Regions from separate parts of the Homo sapiens genome. Here region 2 is linked to region 1. The links come from fine-mapping of genetic effects on gene expression. A gene starts in region 1. The other region holds a variant in brackets. All regions are shown on one strand. Distances are between the middles of the regions. Region 1 holds the start of POF1B (POF1B actin binding protein). Region 2 has its middle 100 kb from the start of APOOL.

What was found. PIP is the estimated chance that this variant, and not a neighbour inherited with it, causes the effect. A credible set is the group of variants that fine-mapping cannot tell apart.
Region 2: its variant is the best candidate, but not a certain one, in a credible set for the expression of POF1B in atrial appendage (GTEx, PIP 0.84).

Annotation. Positions count from the first base shown.
Region 1 is chrX:85,373,453-85,386,772 of GRCh38, reverse strand. It overlaps POF1B (POF1B actin binding protein), which reads left to right and starts at 7,108. Exons shown (of 17, transcript NM_024921.4): 1 at 7,108-7,134; 2 at 7,278-7,600. The coding sequence starts at 7,319.
Region 2 is chrX:84,896,721-84,910,040 of GRCh38, reverse strand. No RefSeq gene overlaps it. Among named protein-coding and RNA genes, the nearest start is that of APOOL, 100 kb to the left of the region's middle. The variant TG/G (reference allele first, on the strand shown) is at 5,541.

The DNA.
Region 1 (13,320 bases):
GTGTACTATGTGGCAATGAGAAGAATTTATATTCGATTGTTTTTGGATGTAGAGTTCTGTAGTGAACAACAAAGAAACAGAAAGTCAAATGCCCCATGTTTTCCACTTATAAATGGAACTAAATAATGTATATACATGGACATAGATATTGGAGACTTGGAAGGGTGGGAGAGTAGGAGGGAGGTAAGGGATGAGAAATTACTTAATGGATACAATGTACATTATTTGGGTGATGGTTACACTAAAAGCCCAGATTTCGCCACTGTGCATGTAACAAAACTGCACCTGTACCTCTTCAATACACATTTTAAAAAGAAAATGCATTGTTTTTCCTTAAATATTTGGTGGAATTCAGCATTTTTCTTCTTGGAAAGTTTATAACTGTGAATTCAATCTCTTCTATTTATATACGGTTATTAAGTTTATCTATTTCTTCTTGGGTGAGTTGTGGTAGTTCGTCTATTTCTCACTATGAATTGGTTCATTTCCTAATGAAAATGGAATTTGTCCTTTTCATCTAAGTTGTAGGATGTGTGTGCATAAAATTGTTTATAAGATACTCCATTATTATTTTAATGTCTGTGGAGTCCTTCTTTCATTCATGATTTCGTTATATGTATTTTCTCTCTTTTTTGGTCTATCTTGTCAGAGGATTATCAATTTTACTAATTTTTTTTAAAAGAACCATCTTTTGGTTTTATTTATTTTCTCTACCACTTTTCTGTTCTCAATCTCAATTATTTCAGCTCTTATTTTTATTACTTCCTTTCTTCTTGCTTGCTAAGAGTACTTTTGTACATATATTCTAAATCAATGAATTAACATTTAAGTTACTCTTTACAATTTTTGTACATTACAAAACAGACACCTAGAAGAGATATCACAGGACTTTACCTCCAACTAAAGTCTTCCATCATAGCCAAGCATTTTAAATTATAAATGACTGCCTTTGCTTTTCACTCAAGCTTCATTCTACTTTTTCCTTTTTGGTAAATTGATTGAGCCTTTTCTGTGACTATGCCGTTGGTCATTTCCCTACCTCCGTTTGTCTTCCCTTTTCACAAGTAAGGCCTTCTTACGTGATATGTTCTGCTACAGACATATTTCTATCTGCAAAGTCATGGCAAGCCCTTTCTTCCTTTCCTTCAAGTCAGATCTAGAGCATAATGTTAAGAATTTCCATTTGTTGTTCAGCTACTAGGTACCACACACCATGCTAAACACTTCACATGCATTTTATCTAATGGACACACCAAATTCTTTGTTAGGGGCTATCGTCCATTTCATTGAAAAGCAACAGAAGGTCAGGAAAGTAACATAGTTTGTTAGGCCATAGAGCTAGTTCATGGTAGAACCAGAATGTAAATCCCGGCCTATCTGACCGCAAAACTACATTAATTAACGCTATAGTGTGCAGCTTTCTGGTATACTCTAATATTATCCTCTTTTATTTTTATTGCCAGAATACCTTATGTAGCTATAATTAATGTACTACACTATAGTTCAGGCCCATTTTAACTTCTCCATATATGTAGAACGTGTTGACTCTTATCCAGAGTCATAGCTCACTTCTACTTGCATGCAGACTTCTAGTCACCTATTCTTGAGCTGCTTACAATTTCTTCCCTAATAGGAAGTCTCATCTTCGTGCCACTACCATCGTCCTCTTTTGTTGAAGCCTGCCTCCAATATATTGGTATAGTTCAGGGATATCCAAACCTTAGTGTACATCAGAATCACCAGGAGAGCTTTTTAAAACAGATCCTTGGTCCTCACCCCCAGGATTTCTTACACAGTAGGTCTGGGGTGGGGCCTGAGAATTTGCAATTCTAAAAATTTTCCCAATGAGGTTCATGGATCTCACTTGAGTATCACTAGTATAGTAATGTGGCTGATCAAATGGTCTTTGGTATGTTTTTATTATATAAGTAGAATTACAAACTAGATATGAATTCTTACTATATGAGTCTAGCCAAAAGCATGCAGAAGAAAAAAATCATAAAAAAGAAAAAAAAATCAGAAAAACACAAAATATGACACACAAAATATATTTTATCACCAACAAAACTTGAAAAACACTGCATACGATTGATCCATTTAGAAGATCATGGTGCACATCAGCTTAGGAAAGGATAGAAGTATTATAGCAATAAAACTATTCACAAATTATATTTAACCAAGTATTTCCAAATATTTCTTAAACTCATTTGATCACAAACATTTTTTCCCAGGTATAGGACCCTGTAGAACTAGTGTTATTCAGGACAAGCTTTGAGAAATGCTGCTTTAAATTAATCTTTTTTTACAGGAGAGGTCAGTCATCCCTGGGGATTTTCCAGGATCATAGAGGCTTGGTTCCACTTCATTCAAATCACACTGAGGATTTATTTATTTTGTCTAGAATCAAAATATAATTTTATCTACTATGGTTTTTGGAACACTGGGATCAGTTAGTTCTGAACAAAACTGTGCCACTGGTAAAATTGACTTTAAGAGTAGATATTCAGAGACCATGAAGCAGAGATACCAAAAGTTTTTCGGGGATCACCTATCTCTATTCTTGGCATATGTATCATCATACACTTTATAGTCTGATATAGAATTTTGACTTGCACTGATGTCAGACATACTCACTTTGTAAACTCTGCCATTCATTTTTTTCCAAATCAAGACAGATGTTTTTTCATATATTATAATCTGAAACACTTCCCAGTCTAAAGTTTCTCAACAGCAGTTAAACAAGCTCAACTTTGTCAGAAGGCTGGAATGTAGTTCTGCAGAATCAAATGAATTGGACTCATTTAGTAAAACGTAAGTGATTTCATACAGTCATCTCATCTACTTTGGGGCTTCAGTTTCCTCTGAATGGACCAATGGTTATTGATCCTTTCCAGTGTGTACATACTTCTCCTTGATCATAGAGAACGCAGAAGTAAAAAGACTTGAGTAACTTTGCTTTAACTATCTTTTGCCATTGTATCATTAGCCCCGGGGGTGAGGCTGGGCTAGAGATAGACTTGAGCATCATCCCCATAAAATAGAAGGTGGAGTGCAGGATTAGTTATACACATGAAAACTACTGATGCTGATGAAATATATTTGATGATAAGTTTATAATTACCTTTATGATTTAATGTTTAAGATAGTTATATATATATATATATCATTTTTGATAAATTAATTACCTATTTGTTTTACCTTAACAGTTTCAGGTAGCTAAGCTTTTTATAAACCAGGCCTATAGCCTCCTCTGGCATTCATATTTTCTTTTCAAAGCCTACTATTTGACAAAAATTATAACACATTATCTGTGAATAACATATTTTAAAATCATATGCCTGGGTACTATATTAAAATCAGCAAACACTTTCACATTTGATTCTAATAACAATTTTATGAAGTAGGTGTGATATTGTGAAATAGATATTTGGTCTTCTTCCCTGTTTTCTGGCATACAACGCTTAAAATATTTGAAATTTCTAAAGTGATAAATATATTTTCATATGCAAATGAATTGACTGAGGGTTGGCATCCCCTAGGTAGCTTCAGGAGGGGAGCTGGTCACTGGAAAGACCAAGGCAGGATTAGAGGGTTGGGACTTTAAGCCCCACCTTTCTTTAGGGGAGAGAAGTTGAAATTGATAGCCTATGACTAATGATTTAATCAATCATGCCTACATAATGAAGCTTATGTAAACTCCAAAATAACTAGATTCAAAGAGAGCTTCCTGATGGCTGAACATGTGGAGGTTCTTAGAGAATGGAGCATAACGAGAGGACATGGAGGCTCTGTGCCTTGCCCTATGCATCTGTTCCATTTGGTGTTCATTTGAATCGTTTATAATATCCTTTATGATAAACCAGTAAATGTAAGTATGTATTTCCCTGAGTTCTGTGAGCGCTCTGGCAAATTAATTAAATCCAAGGAGGGGGGTCATATGAACTCTGATTGATAGCTGGTTGGTCAGGAGCACAGGTACAATGATCTGGGGCTTGCGACTGGTGTCTGAATGGGGACAGTCTTGTGGGACTGAAAGTCCTCAACCTGTGAGTTTTAATGCTATCTCCAAGTAGATAGTGTCAGGATTGAATTAGAGGACACACAGCTGGTGTCCACTGTAGAACTGATCACTTACTAGTTGGGTAGGGAAATAACCCTCACACATCTGGGGTCACAGAAGTGTTCTGTATTGTGAGAGTATAGAAGCAACTGTGTTTTTCCAACAACCTCAGTAGGTCAAATCAGGACTTTTTCGGATGACCTTCAAGACAACTCAGTCAAAATGTAAATCATTGTTTTTTTAAAAATTACCATTAAAGTGTGCAGCAGACATTTCTGTTCCTTGCTCTATCCCTTACTCCTATTATCAGTATGATGAGTTTAATTTTCTACTTTGTTCATGTATTTACTCATTTGAAATTTTAAAAATGAATTATTTTTGTAATCAAAAGCAATAAAGATCTTCTTAAGTCTGTTAGAACTGAATTAACTTGTAAAGGGTTACCAATTGTGTCCCCCAAATCTGTCATTGTAAATGAGGCTTTTTCAGTGGTAAGCATAAAATATCTCCATTACTGTGTGAAACAAAAGAACTGTTGGAAATTTAATTAAAGATTACCTGAAAAAATCTGGAGTTAAGAATAAGGAATCAACTCTTACTACTCCATTCACTAATGTTAGAAGGGTGGTATAATCATGAAGGATGCAGAATACAGAATGTCAATCCCTTGGATTTTCAAGTGTAAAATAGGGCAAGTGTTATTACTACCATAAAGACATATTTATATTTATTTCTTAATCAAAAATGTGTTAGTATGAACATCATCCTCATAAAGGAGAAAAACCAATTAGAGAAACCGATCATGTGATGCACAAGTGAGTTGTCAGAGAAGTAGAAATTTTGGTGACAATGATTAATAAGCCTTTCCGAAATGAACAATTGTGGTCAACACCTGCTTCATAGTTAGATGTGATTTGCGTGCCAGATAGTGCTTAATCTCATTTCTAATATACTATGCCTAAGCTTCAAGCTCTCTGTCCCTCATACCCAGAGATGGAGAACAGTGATGAATGAGGCTCAGATATTGGGTGAAGGTATCAGCTTTACACACAAATTGTAGCCAAACTGTATCAAGGAAGTTGGCTCAAAACACTATATATCCAAGATATGTGAAGGGCAGGTATGGTCACCAGTTTATGGATAAAGGAAATTTTTTTCTTCATCTCAATCTCTTGCTTTATTTAATAGGTCACTTCTTGGCTGCAGCAGATATTTACAGTATTCTGTGTGCTCACATGAATGTGTGTTTGTGTGTGTGTGTGTGTGTGTTTAATTTATATTTTTATCATGAATCAAAGCTGACTGGATGATCCCACTTAACCCCTATTCTCTGTTCACACATAAAGTTTATTCAAAGTGATACTGCTAATGATATTAGTAAGTTATTGATCTGATATTTTACCAGGCTGTTTAACATGTCACATATTTCTAATAAAATTTTAATTGATTCTTGAGGAATATCATTAAAATGAGCAAGGATCAGATTTGACAGGTCTGCACTCAACACACAAATATAAATGTAAATATGTAATAACTAACTTAAAAGTTTTTAAGGGTAATTTTCAGCTTTTTGCACACTCCTCAGCCATAAAAGAAAATCTAAAGATTCCTTTAAAGTCTCTCATGGCTAGCATTTCTGAAGTGTTTTTTGATGTTGACATCTAGAAGATTTATTAGATGGCAGGATACAGAACAATATGAGAATTTATGTAGCTGTAAAATGGAACAATTTGAGAATTTATCTAGCTGTATAATATACCAGATAAGAGCTTAGACTCTAATATGAATCTCCATATGTTAAAATGCCAGGCCCACCATTTACAGGTTATTTAACTTTGGAAAGTTTTTCAAACTCTCCATGTCTGTGCCTCAGTTTCTCACCTATAAACCTCATAAAGTCACTTCAATGATGAAATAATTATAATCCACATAAAACCCCTTGAACAGTACCTGACACAGAGTGAATAGTAAATCATAACACTTTGTTCACTGGGCAGAAAAAAAATGCTGCTAGCCCCCTGGATAACATTCTCTTCCTCTCTAGAATGGTGGTAGTATACTAGGTCCTATTGCACATATACACATTAGGAAGATACTTTTTACTAAAGTCACTTTGAATGAGAGTATTCTGGATTTAAGTGGTGCTGAAGTATATTGCATAGCAAAATCTGAGGGTAAGTAGGCATTATGATCAAAATTTCAAGTAGTAATAAATGTAAGTTGTAAACACATTTAAATCTCATTATGTCAGTTAAGGCATCTTTCAGGACTTGCAGCTCCCTTAATAACTAGATATTAAAAAGTCAATCAAACTCAGTGTTTCCTAGGGCACATATAAGGGCAGGAGAAATTCCCTTGCATAAATGAAAAACAACAAATGTGAATGCCAAAATGCAAAGCATTTGTGGAATCTTTAGGTTTTTCTTGACCATCCACCTTTCTATACAGCAATTCAATCATTTAGACAAATTTCCTTCAACAAATGATAGAAAAGAATACGAGGCTTTGAGTAAGATAAACAAGTCCATATATTAGACAGAGTCACTAGAAAGAGACCCCTTAGTAATCTTCCTTAACTGCAATTATCAGATGGGTTTTGCAAAGAATGCAAATTTATCTGTGAAAATTGGTGTATTCCTAGACTAATACTCATTATTTTAGTCTGGGAATCTGGAATAATAATACTTATGCTGGTAACTACCTTTGCTAAACTTAAGAACCATAAAAAGACACTTTCATATAACATGTGTGACTTTTTTTCTCTAGCAAGTTTTTTGCATTTTCATGTCTTTGTGAATTTTTAAGCCCATGTGCTTGGAAACTCTGGCTTCATCCCTGACATTCTACATTTCTGCTCTTCACAGACTCCTTTACCTGCTGGGCAGCCTTGTAGCTATCTCCGTGGCAAGGCAGGGCCTCTCCTGGCATGTAAACCTGCTAAGTGAATCCGCCCCTAAGGGCGTGTCAGTACCATTTCCTGGAGCAATGTCACAGGGTGGCTCCATTTTCCATTTGAGCTCAAATATTTTGCTGCTTCCTCTGTAGCTGCCAGACCTGCTCTTGCTGCTGCTCAGGTAGCTTTCTTCTCTTCCCGGCACCACTATTGGCAGAGGTTTTGATAAGCGGTTTCCACACGTGTGTCGTGTGTCTGTCTGCCTGCCTGACTGCCTGCTTGCCTGTCTTTTTTTTCCATTATATTTCTCTGTTTGTTCCTTAGGTAGAACATCTGGGAGGTCCCTTGCTGACCACTGGAAGAAGATGAGCTCGAGCTATTGGAGTGAGACGAGCAGCAGCAGCTGTGGAACCCAGCAGCTCCCAGAGGTGCTGCAGTGCCAGCCCCAGCATTACCACTGCTACCATCAGTCAAGCCAAGCCCAGCAGCCTCCAGAAAAAAATGTAGTGTATGAGCGAGTGAGGACCTACAGTGGGCCCATGAACAAGGTGGTGCAGGCCTTGGACCCCTTCAACTCACGGGAAGTGCTCTCCCCTCTCAAAACCACCTCCTCCTACCAAAATTTGGTTTGGAGCGACCATTCTCAGGTACAACAAAGAAAGCTATGCCAGACTAGTGGAGAAAGGCAATCTTCAACCTGATTTCTCTTCCTTTCTGCTTCTTTGCCTCTATTCCACAGGATATCTTTTGGTGGATTGCAGTTATATATGCCTTGGATAGTCACCCAAATTCATCTCTTGGCTGTTATTTCACTTACTAGTGTCTGTGGTTGTTTGTTTCCGGGTTTCACTGATTTTCATAATCTAACCATAGTATAGGAAGGCTCATTTTCTGTTTGATCTGACTGAAAGATCTGATCCAAGGAATCCCTTTGCCCCTACTGCAAAGCAGTTCTCAACTTGAGTACAGTAGATTTTTATTAGAACAAGTTCCTACTGATTAATTTCATATCAGAAGCAAACAGGTTTTTTTTGGTATCAAATATGGTGATACAGGTACTGTGGCATGTCTGAGTGATAAGCAATTATTTGTGCTCAGCAAATAGTATAGCTGCTCCAGGATAAGTGAGAGGTGCAGATGTCTGAATTGTCATATGTGTTTCATCTTCCAAGAATGACACACTTTTTATCGTACAGCCTAGGTGAATAATTTATGGAATACTTGTAGAAAGAGTACTGGAAGAGTTGATATAGGATTGAGGAAGGCAAGATGTAAGCAATTGTTACATGAAAGCTACAAAAGATGGAACTCTAAGACATCCCATAAAATGAAATACGTTTGTTTCTTAAGAGTTATTCTTAGCACCAATACCTGTGTTAATAACCTTCCCAATAAATACAAGGTAACCCTGCAAGACTGTATAAAATTAACAGCTTTATGTGTATTTTATCCTCTGACTCCTTTTACATTAAATTTGCATGTTTTAAGCTTTCTGGAAAATTCTGTCCAAACTGAAATTATGTTTTTAAGATACAAAAATCTCAAAAAGCAGTCATTGGGATATGATGCTATGTTACATTATTATTACCAATCAGGAGTAATACATATTATTTTTCCAAAACCCACAAATTTGAGTAGAATATAAAGTAACATTTCTCAACTGGTTGAGAAAAACTCCACTTATACTGAGGTCAAGGAGAAGAAAAATATAAAGGTCATAAATACCAGTTTGCATTAGTGATAAAAATAATGCAAATGTGCACTCCAATATTCATATTGAGATGCTAATGCAGAACAAAATGAATGCCACCTTTGTTTTATTGTAGCTCAAAAACAATGATGTGCAGATTAAAAACAATTACTATTATCTTAGGAATCCTAAAATCATCCTATCTGCCATAGCTATTTAAACATATTTAGACCCCTTTTTTGTCAACTTGCTAGTAAAAGAAACATAAATAGATATTTAAAAGCTGAAATTTGACAAATTATAAATATTGGCTACCGGACAATTTTTAGGAGTATGTTTTATTATTTACTCCTTGGTTCAGCTTCCCCTTTCAATAACTCAGGATCAAGTTGGTTGAGCTTTTTACAAGATTTTCCTTATTTTACCTGGCATTTGCCAAAGTGATCCTTAAAAATGGACTATCTCCTTCCTAAAATGTAGCTCGCCACACAGGAGTTTATAAACAACTTAGGGCTAGAAAGTGCAGCTGCAGAAACTGGGATAAAAGATTAGAATGGAGGGCTCTGTGAAGTCTGAAGTTATTTATTATTGAAAAGGAAGAAAAGTAAGTGCTGTTAGAAAATGAGAAAAGTGAAAGTTAAGCTATGTGGTAAAGGGAAAAAAAGAAGTATTAATTCCTTAGTGAAACAAGAAGAAAGAATATTTGACTATAAATTTTCAAACTGAGTTGGATATCAAAGGGCATTCACAAATCCACTAAAAGAGAACTTGGCAAGACAGCTTTTAGATAGCTGTCACAAAGAATATGATGAGGAAACTCTTCTATTTTATTTTCCTTTCTCCCTGTTTATTGATGGAATGGCATTGTGGCATCATGTAAAGTAGGACCTAGATTTGATCTGAAATTACCTTTATGCTAACGAAATGAGTATAATGTGATGGTATGTATAATGTACCATGACAGGCATGAGCAAGCAGTACATATTACTCAAAAACCCTTAATTCACTTTATGTTTCAATAAAGTCTATCCTTAATAAACCACGTTTCAGATGAGTTGATGTGTAGCAATTAGCCTAATACCAGAGTTTGTGACCATGGCAGCAAGAAAAATTGATTTTACAATCAATGGTTGATCATCATGAATTCAGTTAAACTTTTACTTTGTCTTTGTTTTTGTTTTGTTTTGTTTTGTTTTTTGCCTTTTGGTTTTTGGAAGACATTCAGGGAATTAATGAGATTTTAAAATAAATATTACCAGTAGTAAAATATGTTGCCTTTGAGAAACCAAAATTGATGCTACTCTGCTTTGCTTCCTGAATCATAATTTTAGGTCATGTAGTAGGCATTTTCGATTTAATCAAATGTTTTCTGTAGCACTTTATTTTCCATTTCTAGCTTTTGAGTACATGCTTTTATTCTCTTAACCTCTTGTGCACTAAAATGGTGTTTATGGATATAAACATATTTTAAATTTATCTAGATATATAATGTTACTTTGTTTCTTTAATTAAACATATATTTTATGTTTTTTGGTTATTATTTTGTTTGATTGATAGAGTGTTTCTCAGAGAAAATTAAGTGTAGAAACCAGTTGCTGGTGAAATTTTCTAAATTAATGGTAGAATTAAAATTACTGGGTTTATCTGCATGAACACGTATAGTCAAACACAGATATAATCAAGGTCTCAGATGCATTTTAGAACTGAATGTGGTCTTGCAAATAAATAGAGTTCTAGAAGCTTAAAGTAAAACAAAAATTCTTAGTTCAATCTTTTACAAAGCTTAGCTGTTAACCTACCATCATTAACTCAAAATGAAATGCCTTAAATGAGCAACATTGATATGAATTACTCATTGGGCTAACATTCTTTCCTTCCACTAATTAAGGTTTTCATGAAGTTCGAGGTATTTTTCATGCATACAGAGCAGCTGTATACATGAGAGAGAAAAAATGTGAGAGAGAAAAAATGGATTAAAATAAAATATTTTTAAATACCAGTCATTCACTGAATACATGTTTATTAAGTGCCTATTTTTTAGCAAACACTGTGATTTTCTGGATAAATACCATTAACCTGTCCAGGGAGAGTTCATTTTTAGGACAGACATACAGAGCCTGGTCTGTAGGTGTCCCATGTGTCTATCTATATTTCATTTTAAAGGAGTATTTTGTGTTGTGACCATCAGCATTTTATCAAGTAAAACATGCTTTTGTGAGAGAAGGATTATTTTAGTGTATATGTTATAAGGGTTGCCATTCTTTTGAATTTGAAACTTGCAAAGAAACTCTAGAGAGCAGCCTGGGGGAAAATGTGTGTTTACGAATGACCTCTGTTCTCAACAATTATTCAGCTGGGGCTTACCTTTGTTTATATGATTTTTTTGTGCTTTTTCTTTGGTTGCAAAGATTGTGGATAACTCTTCTCTTCCACTATCAGAAAAGTTTCCCGTTCTGTGGGGAGGGGTGTGCTGCTTTGATAAATTGTTGTTCAAGGGCGTAGTCACTAAAGTGAATGATTGTTCAAGGAAGTGCGCTGCCTGAAAAAAGAATGAGGTCATAGGATAAAGGGGTTGCATTTTCAGCTTTGGTCTCCTCTTTTGTGCTTACAATTAAATGAAGCTATAGAAATTGGAGAGTGCAACTAATTGCTGAGTGAAAATGCCCATGGCAATTGTATCTTGTTTAACGGAGGTCTGATAAATTGCTGGGCCTGTTTTCAGTCAAAGGCACTCATAAGCTGTCACGGTGTGTGTGTGGCAAGATATGAGGGTGGCAAGTGGAAGAGAGGGAAACTGTCCTTTCAAGTTTATTTTCTTGACAATTCATGACAAAACAATTGGGAAATTTGCCATGCTCTTAAGCCCTATTTAAAAGTTAAAACTTTTATTAATAAATATATTTCAGCCAACTTTTTCTTCAGACCAGGGGCTATCCCAGTAGAGGTCATTTTTTGATTTTCAATAAAGTATATATACTCATAATTTTTAAAGACAGAAAGCATGCACTGCAAAAAAGACTGTGTATTTTATTTTCTCTCTGTCTCCTAGTTTTCTTCAGAAAAAGAAGAGAAAGAACCCAATATGGACCTCTTAAATGAGGGATTTGGGTTGGAGAGAAGGAGGAACAGGAAGTAGTTCTATTATACATTCGGTTGCTTTCTTTGTATGACAACAGAAACACAGATTTTATCCTAAATCAAAGAAGTGTTTATTTCATCTAAAGAGAGATTATTATAAATAACATGTTTCTTGCTATATAAGTTGAGTATAACATCTCAACAATAACCTCAGACAGGTGTTTAACTATGTTACATGGCTTTGAAAGATCCTAACAAAAACATCTCCCATACTATTCAGGGAATTTATTCAAATGGAGGTTTGCCTTGGCAAATTCTGTCAGCATAAATGTCAGGTGGTTTTTAAAGATATTGCTTCTTTTGAAACTGTTCAGCCTAGAGTATTTGTAACTCACCATTATTACCTTCAGTGATTCTCATAGTCATTGGGAGTAACAGGAGCATACACAAACCTTCCATGGTTTTCCTTCATGGAATATTATACTGTATATTAGTCTTTATGTAAAGTTTTAAAATTCAAATTAGACAACATAAAGAGTTATACTTTCATGTTAGCAAGTTTCCAAATATTTAGAAACAAAGCCTGCACTACGTATGTAATATTCTCTATGATTTAATTCTCATTACCTTCAGTCTTTCTTGTATGTCTTACACCAGGCTTTTGAGCTCTTTGACCACAGCTATCAACAGGAAAATGAAGCCAACAGGTCTTGACTGAAGAGGTTCAGATTTTGCAGTCTAAAGACCAATTGCAGAGAAAATTGTATGAAGAAAATGCCCAAAAAGGTCTATGTGGAATGTCTCAGGAAGAGCTGTAAATAAATATGCAATCATGAGGTGAACTTTGGCAGAATAGAACTATGAAGCAGTCTAGTTGGAGTCCCTAGGAATATTAATTTTAAAATCTCCACAACTTTAATTACACCTAAGAATATGTTCTCTAGAAAAGTTGCTTAAATTCCCTATACACATCCCATATCACTCCTCTGCTGCAAAAACCTTCAATGACACTAAGTATCTATAAATTGCTTAGTCTGACTTTCAAGGCCCTCCATGTTAGGGCTCCTGTGGAACTTCCTGGAACTCTCCTTCTGGTGTCCTATGTTTTAGCTAAGTGTAAATGATTGTTCTCTAAATAAAGTCCCCAATTTTCCACAGCTATGTCTTTCACTCCATTGCTCTTACATCTGAACTGCTCCTGCTCCTCACCCTCACCAATCTAGACACCCTGAAATTATACAAATTTTTCAAGCCTTTCCTCAAGTGTAACCTTCTGATCCTCTGATTGTCCCAGGTTGAAGTTATCTCTTAGCCCTCAAAACTTACCTAGTGAGCTTCTTATAGGTCTTATGATAGTCTACTTAATTCCTATTTGTACTCATAGTGTTTATGCCCTACATGATTATAACCATGAGAGGGTAGAGATTATATTCTAACATCATTTGTATCTCTTTCAATGCCACTACACAATAAGTAGTAAAGAAACTGCAAGTTAGTAACTTAGTCACATATATAATCAATCCAGTGAAAATAATATTTCATATTAATACATGGGTTTTTTGTTTTTCACAACTCTTCCATGTATATGATTATCTAGTA
Region 2 (13,320 bases), 480 kb after region 1:
TCCCTAGGATGTCTCACAGATACCTCTAACTCTACACGTCCACAGACCAAACTCTTAGTCTCGTCCTTAAAATTCTGGTCCTCTTCCAGTGTTCCATATCTCATTGAAAATTACAATGAAATCCATCTTGTTATATAAGCCAGAAGCCTAGAAGTCATCCTTGACACATTATCTCCCTCAATTCCTGTAGCCAAGTTGTTGATTTTACTTCCTAAAGGTATCTTGTATATATCCACTTGTTTTGTTTCATTCCCACCATTCTAGCCTCTAACAGGCTCTTATGTACGTGCTTAATCCAAATGAGAAGAAAAATAAATAAGTGCCCATTTCCCACAACTTAAAATTTTCTTTTCTAAAATGTGCCTTATCCTAAGGACCAAACACTTTCAATTAAGGCTGTGTGATATCCATTAAAAACAGCATAAAACACAAAAAGATTTATATAGAACAAAACAATATCATTAATACTGTAAAAGGCTATCTTATGTGCAAATGTACAATTAAACAATAATGTCCTTAACAATCTTGCTTCTCGTATATTGGGTCACTACATGAACACTTTCTCCCATAATTTACCTAGATCTGGAATTTTTTTTAAAAAAAGTTTGCTGCATCAACAACAGCTGACCTTTATTACTCATTAATTTTCTTCTTATGCAATCTCTGCCAGTAAGTCAACATTTGATGCACAATATCCATTATCCTTGGTATGATTCTGTTTGAGTATACTACTACTGAAACTAAAATAGTCAAACTCAAGTAAGGATATGCCCTGCTCAGACTTCAAGTCTTTTGTTTTTACTCTGTATTTAAATCAAATTCAGTGAATGTTCTTTCTCTATATATCAATGTTTCAACATTTTTCATAGTCAGATCCTTCAATGTGTCAGTGTTCCTGTTCCCTAATTTTAAGTATTTTAAAGCCACTATATTTCTGTGCTGTTGTTGTTTTTTATAGTAAGTATAAATCTACTGCAATTGACAAAAGGTTTATCCAAACACAATTCTTATTAAAATTAAGAAATTCAGCAATTGAGTGATAATCCAGCAGTGGAAATTCAAAGTTACTCTTATAGCTTAAGGCACTTAGGTTGTTTCCAAAAGGCAAAGGGAATTATGATGTTAAAAAATAAATAATTCAACATAGTCTAGGTTAAAAGTGTAGGTTATACCTAAAAAGGAATTGAAGTCGAACATAATAGCAGCAACAATAAAAAATGGGGATATTCCTCATTGTTTGTGCAAGTAGTAAACTAAAAATATACCATGATCCTTGCAATAAATGTATTCACAAGAGATGCGTGTCATTCCTATTTGTTTCTAAATCATATATTCTCACTGAAAAATGGTTACCTTATAGGCAAAGTATCATTAGTCTAAAAAAATCTCACTACTTTAAAAAAAGTCAGTTATTAAGTAAAGGTTACTTTGTAATGTGATTATTTTATAATGTGAGTTATCAATTATTAATTTATCTGCTTTAAAATTGAAATTTTCAGTCTGTTAAGTATTTATACATTAGAAAACATTATAAACTTGAATAGAAATATTTCTTCTCTGCAATTCCATAATATTGGTATCACAGAATCAGCAATAGTATCTTTATATAATCTAGCAGAATAACCCACTTAGTCTACTAGGATAGTCAATGTAAATTATGTAGTTCATTTTCCTTATATAGACTTAAATTTAGTCTAATAGGGCAAAATATCCCTTAAGAAGGGTAATAAATAATCTGACTCCACTTTAGATATTTGATTGCTGATAGTTTTCAAGCTCTACCCTCCTCCCTCTCCCTCATATGCTAGAAACTTAATCCCAGCCTCAGCTCCTAAATATTAGAAAAACTAAGCTTTTTTTTTTTTTTTTTTTTTTTTTTTTTGAGACAGAGTCTCACTCTGTCACCCAGGCTGGAGTGCAGTGGTGCAATCATGGCTTACTGAAGCTTCGACCTCCTGGGCTCAAGCGATCCTCCTACCTCAGCCTACCAAGTAGCTGGGACCACAGATGCCTGCCACCATGCCCTACTAATTTTTTAGTTTTTTATGCAGACAGGTTTTCCTTATGTTGTGCAGACTGGTCTTGAACTCCTGGGGTCAAGAGATCCTCCTGTCTGAGCCTCCCGAAGTGCTGGGATTACAGGCCTGAGCCACCACACCCTGACCTCAAGTTATTTTTGGATCGGCAGGAATGCCTGTCTTGCTCTCCCCGGAAAGCATCATTATGCAAATAATAAACATTTTCATAGTGTCCTGGTGTGTATGTGGTGTCTTGACCTCTTAACCAAAGTTGAGGTTGAGGGTGGGGGATTCATTCCACCTCTGTGGCGTGACCAACATATGAAACACTGATTAAAAAGGAAAGGTATAGTTCTGAGCAAAATAAAGAAATATAGTACTGACAATGATTCACCAAGTCCTGTATTAATTTGGTTTCTGTTTTCCAAAACCAAAATATAGGTAAATATTAGAAAGAAAATAATCTTATGGTGTCCACTAGATGGCAGGGGCCAACTTTTATTCCTAGGAATTTCCATTCTAGAATACCCAAAGTTTTCAGTCCAGGGAGCTATCTGTTAACAATATACATGAATTTGAGGGTAAATTGTTAGAGATGTGATTAATACGACTGTTTATTCTTTTTACCATTTAGTGAATTACCCCTAGTGTCAAATGACCTGGGCTTTTGAGTAGCTAAATCTCTTCCACTTTGAAAATAAGAATGGGTTTCTTTTGCCCTTCCTCATCTCCTTCACTGGTAGATAAATCACTCCTCCACATCACGGGACAAATGTAAAAGTTACAAGCTCTTTCAGGGCAATATCTTACACACAGGTAAGTACTGTCTAGACATACTCTCTAGTCCACATTAATGAAAAATTATGCAATCTTATAGTTGGAAAGCTACTTAAAAAAAGCAATTTGTTTCTACTTCTTACTTCAGGCTTGAATACTTAAGCCTCCAGGACACAGTTTAAGATATTAAAAGGTGGAAACTATATCACTTTCCTCAATAGCCAATTCTGGTCATATATTTTATTTTATAGATAATTCAAGCTCTCCAGCTTCAACTTAAACACGTATTTTTGCAATTTTATTTTTAATTTTCAACTGCCTTTTTGTATAATTTTTTAAAAATACTAAGTTGTAATAATTATGTAACTCTACCACTAAAACACACTGATTTATTTAACTTTTCTTCATGGAATCTATTTTTATATCCCTGTGATTAGGATTTATTTCTCTTCCCTGAATCATCCCAAGTTTCATTTCATCTGTTCTGAAGCTATATAAACTATATGCTATGACTTATATGTAATGTATATCATATATTATTGTATTTCTTATATATTATATATAATTATATATTATATACTAAGATATATAATAGTAAGAATATAACCTAATAGAGAAAGTATGACATCTAGTAACTTATAGATACTTATCTCTTCAATATCTCCTAGTACTATACTGGTATTCTCCAAACATCTTAATTTTAGCACTTATATAATAAACTAAATGGATGACTTTGGCTTCCAAAGCTTTTTTCTGCTATTTTGATGGTGGTAGATTTTTTCCAAGTTCTTCGACTGAGTTTCTTCAAAATTTGTTACAACCATTAACATAATTTATCATACATATTCTAGAATATTAGCCCAGAGCAGAAGCAGAAGTCATTCTATTTCTTTTTGATCCATTGCCTGATTTCCTATAGGTCCTTGGTTGTAGAACTAAGTTAATGTATGTGGTTTTATTAAGTCAACAAAAGGGAAAAGAACAATTTGATGCTGATTGATTCTTCTCCCAAGCTTGCTGATGATTTTATGCACACATTCTTTAATTATAGGAATCTGGCTATAGGATGGGCAGCATATCATTTGAAGAACATTGTAAATTAGTAGGTATTGTAATATAGTAAGTTAGAAAAAGACTTGATAAAAATATATAAATCCTATGACTCTTCCCCCAAAGAAAGGTAACTGGTAATTTTAATATTTTGCAGATAAAATGAAGAAAGGTGAAAAATGAACTAAAGTGGTAAGCTAATTTGAAAGTAATAGAACTATTGTGTTAATCTTATAGAATCTATTATTCATAAATTCCAGTCACAGCATAATGCTGGAACACCGGTATTCTGGACAAACTATTTGAAAATTTAAAATTATATATGTACCTTACATTATATTTCTATTGTACAGTGCTGATCTGGACTTTGAACTTAAGGATGTATTTGTTGGTTTCTTCTGCAACATGGAGCCAAGTCAATTTGGAATTCAGGTGGATATATAAAATCATCTCAGCCTTGATATTCTACAAAAGAAATGGAAAAGGGAAAGAAAAAAAGGATGTAAAGAAAAAACTGAATAGAGTGTGTTAGCCATTGAAATGAAGAGCCAAGAGCCAGGTCACCAGAGTGATAATGAACAACAGTTTTGTAGACTGTTTATTAAAGAAAGAATGCAGTTTGCTTACCATGCATTTGAGATATTAGGTTGGTGAAAAAGTAATGGCAAAAACCACTATTACTTTTGCATCAACCTAATATTAATAGCTTTCTGCAAAGTGAATGGACCATGAATTTAGTAAACCAGCTATGGTAACAGCATACTCTTAAGTTAATGACTACACAGAATTACTTCAAAATACACAAATAGTTCTCAACATCAATAGGGCATGAACAGAAGAAATACATACATGTAGATACATACAGAAGAAAAAATATATCCCAAAAGGCCAGAAAAGGGTGGTGATAGTAACATTTAACGTATTTCTAAACCTTAAGTTTCCTAATATAGGATGGTTATTACATACATCAATTATTTTTATTTTGAAAACTCTTTAAAAATATCTAAAAATGAAGTTGCCAAGCATGAAATTGTTTAGCATATGGGCATCACAGAGCAGTATTTGAAATGTGGTCTTTTTAATATACCATTTTCTCTCCCTCTCTCTGGTATTACAAGCAACCCATAATTTTTCTAAGAAATTGTCATGAAATGGCAAAAGGTTGGACATCACTCAACTTATTTATAGAGGTTACTAAGATCTGGTTGTTATAATTATACCAATGCTTACCAAGTCACTTATTCTTTTTGAGTCACAATTTCTTCAAGAATAAAAAAGGGGAACCAACTATTGATATGCTGTGATGTTTGTAACATGCATTACAATTCCCAAGGGAAAGATTCTATTAAAGTTATATAAAAATATAAACCTAGCAATCACTGAATTAAAAAATCAAAATCTCATACATTTAATAATAATCTGACAAAAGGCCACATGGAAAAAAATGCTCACAAAGCCGATCCATTAAAAAAGGCACTGGAACTTTGATTTAGCTTGTATTAAGATAATTAATTGTAAGAATGTTCTGTCAGTGAAATGAAAACATGGTGAATACAATTTAGTATTTTTTCTGTTTAATTTGGAAAAGAATAAGATGAATGATATTCATCAGGTTATTAATACAATATAAAATGATTTGATATTTCATAACTGGTCTTAAAAATTTTCACATTTGAAATAGAAGATTTTTCACAT[TG/G]GTTGGAGAAGAGGGAATAGAATAATATGATGAGGAGTGATATTTACTGATGACTTATTATGTGATAGACGCTATGCAAAGGTAATTTACATGCATTAATTCATTGAATCATCACAACTGTTCATTAATTTAGTTAATATCAATTGAGCAACATACATTGTGCCACATATTGAGGCATGTGAACTGTTGGGGTTAGAAGTTCTGGGAACAGAGAGGTAGTACTTGTGAAAGCAGAAGACAGACATTGGTACAAGAGTCACAAAACAAAAGTAAAATTACGAGTGTGCTAAATGCTGTGAAGTAGAGGTACATAATGCTATGAGAGCTAATAAGTGATCAAGTTGGTGGGCAGGGAGGGATTAGGGAAGGCTTTCCTAAAAGAATCATATATTAAAGTGAGCTCTCAAGGAAGACTAGGAGTTACCCAGGTCATGGAGTATTATAGGAAAAATGGAAAACATATGCAGAGGTTCTGTAGGTGGATGGAACTTAACACATTAGAGAAACTAAAAGAAGGCCAACATGGCTGGAATGTAAAAACCACAGTGGTGCATGGTATAAGATGTGACTCGAGAGGTATAGAATCCATGCAATGCCTGGTAATTCTTTTTACGGATTTTTTTTAGTCTAAAAATAATGAAAAGTTATTGATAGCTTTAAATAAAGGGGATGGATGGAAAAGTGGAGTGAGGAGAAGGAGTGGTGATATGATCACATTTATATTTTAAGAAAATGTTTCTCTGATTAGAATGGTAGAACAGATTAGAGGGGGGCCAAAGTGAACATGGGGAGACAGGTCAGAGGCTATTGAAAGGGTTCAGGCTGGGCACAGTGGCTCAGGCCTGTAATTTTAGTGCTTTGGGAGGTGGAGCTGGAAAGACAGCTTGAGGCCAGGAGTTTGAGACCAGTCTGGGCAACAGAGTGAGACTCCATCTCAAAAAACAAACAAAAAACATTAGATCTCATGAAAACTCACTATCATAAGAACAGTATGGGGGAAACCACCCCTATGATTTAGTTATCTCCACCAGGTCCCACCCTTGACACTTGGTGATTATGACAATGCAAGATGAGATTTTGGATGGAGACACAGCCAAACCATACCATTTATATAATATAGTGATCCAGGTATATTTCTCTTTTCCAAATTTTTTGAAAGTTACCCAAAACTATCCATTGAATAATCCATCTTTGCCCCATTGATATGACAAACCCACAGCCAATATCATACTGAATGGGCAAAACCTGGAAGCATCCCCTTTGAAAACTGGCACAAGAGAGGGATGCCCTCTCTCACCACTCCTATTCAACATAGTGTTGGAAGTTCTGGCCAGGGCAATCAGGCAGGAGGAGGAAATAAAGGGTATTCAATTAGGAAAAGAGGAAGTCAAATTGTCCCTGTTTGCAGATGACATGATTGTATATTTAGAAAACCCCATCGTCTCAGCCCAAAGTCCCCTTAAGCTGATAAGCAACTTCAACAAAGTCACAGGATACAAAATCAATGTGCAAAAATCACAAGCATTCTTATACACCAATAACAGACAAACAGAGAGCCAAATCATGAGTGAACTCCCATTCACAATTGCTACAAAGAGAATAAAATACCTAGGAATCCAACTTACAAGGGAGGTGAAGGACCTCTTCAAGAACTACAAACCACTACTCAATGAAATAAAAGAGGATACAAACAAATGGAAGAACATTCCATGCTCATGGATAGGAAGAATCAATATTGTGAAAATGGCTATACTGCCCAAGGTAATTTATAGATTCAATGCCATCCCCATCAAGCTACCAATGACTTTCTTCACAGAATTCGAAAAAACTGCTTAAAGTTCATATGGAACCAAAAAGGAGCCTGCATTGCCAAGACAATCCTAAGCCAAAAGAACGAAGCTGGAGGCATCATGCTACCTGACTTCAAACTATACTACAAGGCTACGGTAACCAAAACAGCATGGTACTGGTACCAAAGCAGAGATATAGACCAACGGAACAGAATAGAGGCCTCAGAAATAACACCACACATCTACAACCATCTGATCTTTGACAAATCTGAGAAAAACAAGCAATGGGGAAAGGATTCCCTATTTAATAAATGGTGCTGGGAAAACTGGCTAGCCATATGTAGAAAGCTGAAACTGGATCCCTTCCTTACACCTTATACAAAAATTAACTCAAGATGGCTTAAAGACTTACATGTTAGACCTAAAACCATAAAAACCCTAGAAGAAAACTTAGGCAATACCATTCAGGACATAGGCATGGGCAAGGACTTCATGTCTAAAACACTAAAAGCAATGGCAACAAAAGCCAAAATTGACAAATGAGATCTAATTCAACTAAAAAGCTTCTGCACAGCAAAAGAAACTACCATCAGAGTGAACAGGCAACCTACAGAATGGGAGAAAATTTTTGCAATCTACTCATCTGACAAAGGGCTAATATCCAGAATCTATAATGAACTCAAACAAATTTACAAGAAAAAAACAAACAACCCCATCAAAAAGTGGGCGAAGGATATGAATAGACACTTTCCAAAAGAAGACATTTATGCAGCCAACAGACACATGAAAAAATGTGCATAATCACTGGCTGTTAGAGAAACGCAAATCAAAACCACAATGAGATACCATCTGATACCAGTTAGAATGGTGATCATTAAAAAGTCAGGAAACAACAGGTGCTGGAGAGGATGTGGAGAAATAGGAACACTTTTACACTGTTGGTGGGACTGTAAACTAGTTCAACCATTGTGGAAGACAGTGTGGCCATTCCTCAAGGATCTAGAACTAGAAATACCATTTGACCCAGCCATCCCATTACTGGATATGTACCCAAAGGATGATAAATCATGCTGCTATAAAGACACATACACACATATGTTTATTGTGGCACTATTCACAATAGCAAAGACTTGGAACCAACCCAAATGTCCGTCAATGATAGACTGGATTAAGAAAATGTGGCACATATACACCACGGAATACTATGCAGCCATAAAAAAGATGAGCTCATGTCCTTTGTAGGGACATGGATGAAGCTGGAAACCATCATTCTCAGCAAACTATCACAAGGACAAAATACCAAACACCACATGTTCTCACTGATAGTTGGGAATTGAACAATGAGAACACTTGGACACAGGAAGGGGAACATCACACACTGGGGCCTGTCATGGGGTGGCAGGATGGGGGAGGGATAGCATTAGGAGATATACCTAATGTAAATGACGAGTTAATGGGTGTAGCACACTAACATGGCACATGTATACATACATAACAAACCTGCACATTGTGCACATTTACCATAGAACTGAAAGTATAATAATAATAATAAAAGAAATATTGCCTTTAGTATATTTTTCACATATTTTTCACATATTTATCCTGTCTCTGGATTTTCTTATTCATTTCACTAGAATACTTATATATTTTTATTTTTGCCAGTATATTAATTATTATACATTTAGAGTATATTTTAGAATTTTTTGGGGTAGATTACCTTCTAATTAAACTTAGTATTTTTATCTGGGATTTCTCTCACAGTTTTTATTCTCCCAGATGAACTTTTAGAGTTAGAGTCAACCTCTGAAAAAATCCCATCAAAATTTTGATTAAAGTAGCATTACATTTAAAGTTAATTTGAAATATTTGAGATTTGTCGTATTTACTATATTGACTGTTCTAAGCCAGAAATGTGGCCATATAACTCAACATTTATCTATCATTTCCTCTATGAAAATTTTACATTTTATTCTCACACATCTTACACATTTTATATTGTTTATTCTTGTGTATTTTATCATTTTTGTTGCAATTTTAGGAAAAAAGTATATTTCCGGGCTATCATTTTATTGTTACATAATGGATGCCACAAATGGTGTAATTCCAACAATTTGTGATCTCATTTTCTATGTGTAGATAGAGAGCCTAAAACTGTACAGCTCTAACTAAAATTTAAATAAGTTATGGTTTAAGCAAAAATAACTGTTATTTGGCACAAATAAACACTTAACTGTTTTTCACTGTAATTCAGTGATAATAGATAGACTTACTTTCCTTCCTGGTACACTTACATTGTGAAGCAACCAGTAGAGAGTTGACTGTTTCACAATAAGCCAGTATATTTTCCATTTAAAAAAGGGGATTCTTCTAGACTGTCTTTTCTTCCAGAGCCATCTCTTGCATTTCCTATGGCCAAGGTAAACAACATTAAGAACATGATTGAAATCAGACGTTGGCTCTTTTATCTCTTCAGAGCATCTCAGTGTAATAGACATGAAAATTTAGTCTCAGCCTCAGAAATAACACCACACACCTGCAACCATCTGATTGTCAACAAACCTGACAAAAACAAGCAATTGGAAAGAATCTCCTATTTAATAAGAGGTGCTGGGAAAACTGGCTAGCCATATGCAGAAAACTGAAACTGGACCCCTTCCTTATACCTTATACAAAAATTAACTCAAGATGAATTAAAGACTTAAATGTAAAAACCAAAACCATAAAAACCCTAGAAGAAAACCTAGGCAACACCATTCAGGACATAGGCATGGGCAAAGACTTCATGACAAAAATGCCAAAAGCAATTGCAACAAAAGCCAAAATTACAAATGGGATCTAATTAAACTAAAGAGCTTCTGCACAGCAAAAGAAACTATCATCAGAGTGAACAGGCAACCTACAGAAAGGGAGAACATTTTTGCAATCTACCCCTCTGAGAAACATCTAATATCCAGAATGTATAAGGAACTTAAACAAATTTACAGGACAAAAAACAAACAACCTCATCAAAAAGTGGGCAAAGGATATGAACAGACACTTCTCCGAAGAAGACATTTACGCAGCCAACAAACATATGAAAAAAAACTCAACATCACTGATCGTTAGTGAAATGCAAATCAAGACCACAATGAGATATCATCTCACGCCAGTCAGAACGGTGATTATTAAAAAGTCAAGAAACAATAGATGCTGGTGAGGCTGTGGAGAAATAGAAACACTTTCACACTGTTAGTGGGAATGTAAATTTGTTCAACCATTGTGGAAGACAGTATGGCAACTCCTCAAGGATCTAGAACCAGAAATACGACTTGACCCAGCAATCCCATATGAAGTATTCTAGTATAAAGACACATGCACACGTGTGTTTTTTGCAGCACCATGTACAATAGCAAAGCCATGGAACCAACCCAAATACCCATCAGTGATAGACTGGATAAAGAAAATTTGGTACATATACACTGTGTAATACTATGCAGCCATAAAAAGGAATGAGATCATGTCCTTTGCAGGGATATGGATTAAGCTGGAAGCCACCATCCTCAGCAAACTAACAGAGGGTCAGAAAACCAAACATCACATGTTCTCACTCATAAGTGAGAGTTGAACATTGAGAACACATGGACACGGGGATGGAAACAACACACACCAGGGCCTCTTTGGGTGGTGGGGGGCAAAGGGAGGGAACTTACAGGACAGGTCAATAGGTGCAGCAAACCACCATGGCACACATATACTTATGTAACAAACCTGCACGTTCTGCACGTGTATCCTGGAATTTAAAGTAAAATTTTTAAAAAAAAAAGAAAGAAAGAAAAACATATTTGAATTCCTTAAATGCATGTATTGCTTTTCCTAGAAATCCCAAGGCAAATTTATTCATAAAATTAGTTATTTTATTTTTAAAATTAAGTGTATATTATTATATTAATTAAAATTTTGTTACAACTATATGCCATTGTAACTTGTGGTTGCACTTTTAAAAACTCATCACTCTGGCCAGACGCAGTGGCTCACGGCTGTAATCCCAGCACTTTGGGAGGCCGAGGTGGGAATCACCTGAGGAGTTTGAAACCAGCCAGACCAACATGGAGAAACCCTGTCTCTACTAAAAATACAAAATTAGCCGGGCGTAATGGTGCATGCCTGTAATCCCAGCTACTCAGGAGGGTGAGGCAGGAGAATCACTTGAACCCAGGAGGTGGAGGTTGCAGTGAGCCGAGATCATGCCATTGTACTCCAGCCTGGGCAGCATGAGCGAAACTCCATCTCAAAAACGAAACAAAACAAAACAAAACAAAACAAAAAACAAACAAAAAAAATCTCATCACTCCAGGGTCCAGCTTACAACTGTTATACTAATTATCAAATTACTGTTGCTTTATTCTGGACTCTCACACAGTTATACTAGTATGAGAAAGTTCTCCCTTAAGTTTCAGTTGAATACTGAAGTCACTATAATTTGGAGAGTTTATGCACAGAGAATGGGTCTCTTCACAAAGCCAAACCAAATTATACATTTTTCCTACCTTTTAAGAGCCTGTTACTGAAGATAACAGTTTAACTTAGATTTCTAAAACCATGCTATTGCTTATGCAGTATGTCACTTTGTGTGAGTTCACACATATATAAATGTGTGAGGAGGATGAGATATCTGAGATTGCAATAATTTTTCAAAATTTTTTCTTCAAACTATGGCCACTACCACTTCCTTCTACTGTAGAAGGGGGCTTTTCCAGATATACTCTTTTTCAGCACATTAGAACCACAGAATTGTTGAGCTAGAAGAGACTTTAAAGATCGTCTAGCTCAATCCTTTGCTTTATAGATAGAGAAATAAGGCCAAGTAATATTTGTCATGTTATTGTTAGTTGGTGATAGAGTTTGATCTAGAACGCAGTTCTCCAATTATAGCACCTGCCTATCTTTGCCCATTAATCCCTGGTGAAATTGCTTAGGATCCCTGTATTTTAAGAATCTGTACTGGCTTTATATTAAGGATGAATGTTATAAGGGTTTATTAAAACATCAATTTTGAAATGTGGGTCTTGTTCACTGAGAATAGATTGGGTAAAATCATGACAGTGAAAATCTATGCACATATTAGAAATCATCAAAGGTGGGCTTCTTATAGAAATGATCCCATCACGATGTTAAAAAAATCCCCAAGTATCTGAAAAAAGGTCGCTTTTTAATTAAATAAGAGAAAATGAAGTGGAGTCTCTATTTGTGAACAATTCCTCTGTGTTTTCTGGAAGATGAAAAATAATAGATCATGACAAAAATACCTGAGTATTTAACATATAGCTGTTAGATCTTTTATGCTTCCCCTACTTGATGACTTTCAAAACTAAATAGCAGTCACATTATTTTTACCCATCTTTATTTTTTAAAACCTAATTTACTGTCTCACATAATTTACCCAAATTTATAATCTGATTAGCTGGCACACGTGAATTCATAGAACAGTAAAGCCCAACCATCTATCTCATGCTATCACTATAGATGGTTAAACCTAGGAAAAAAACATAATAGCAGATATGGATAGATTAATAGCTGTAGCTGGTAGTAACTGCTTATACAATTTTAAAGTGTTCAACTTTAATTCCAATAAAATTACATTATGAAACTGGGGTAGTTTTAAAAATGACTGATAAAAGGAAAATATATACACTCAAGTAAAGTTTTGAGTCATATTCAATTCTTAGACCCCTAGTGTGTGCACTCCTTTGGATTAACCATGGCTATCAGAAAATTTTCGTTTGACATATACACATATAAATAACTACCTGGTTACCTGACCACTCTTAAAATATTCTGTAACATTTTTGAGATGGAGAGTCAAATGTCAATGTTTTGCTTTAGCTCTCCTGTTAGACTAGGCAATAGTACTTTAACTTTCATTTGAAATTATAGAAGTAATGTATAAGCACAGTAAAAAAATAAACAGTGCATAGAAGAGATTTTTATTTATATCAAGAATTGTTATTAA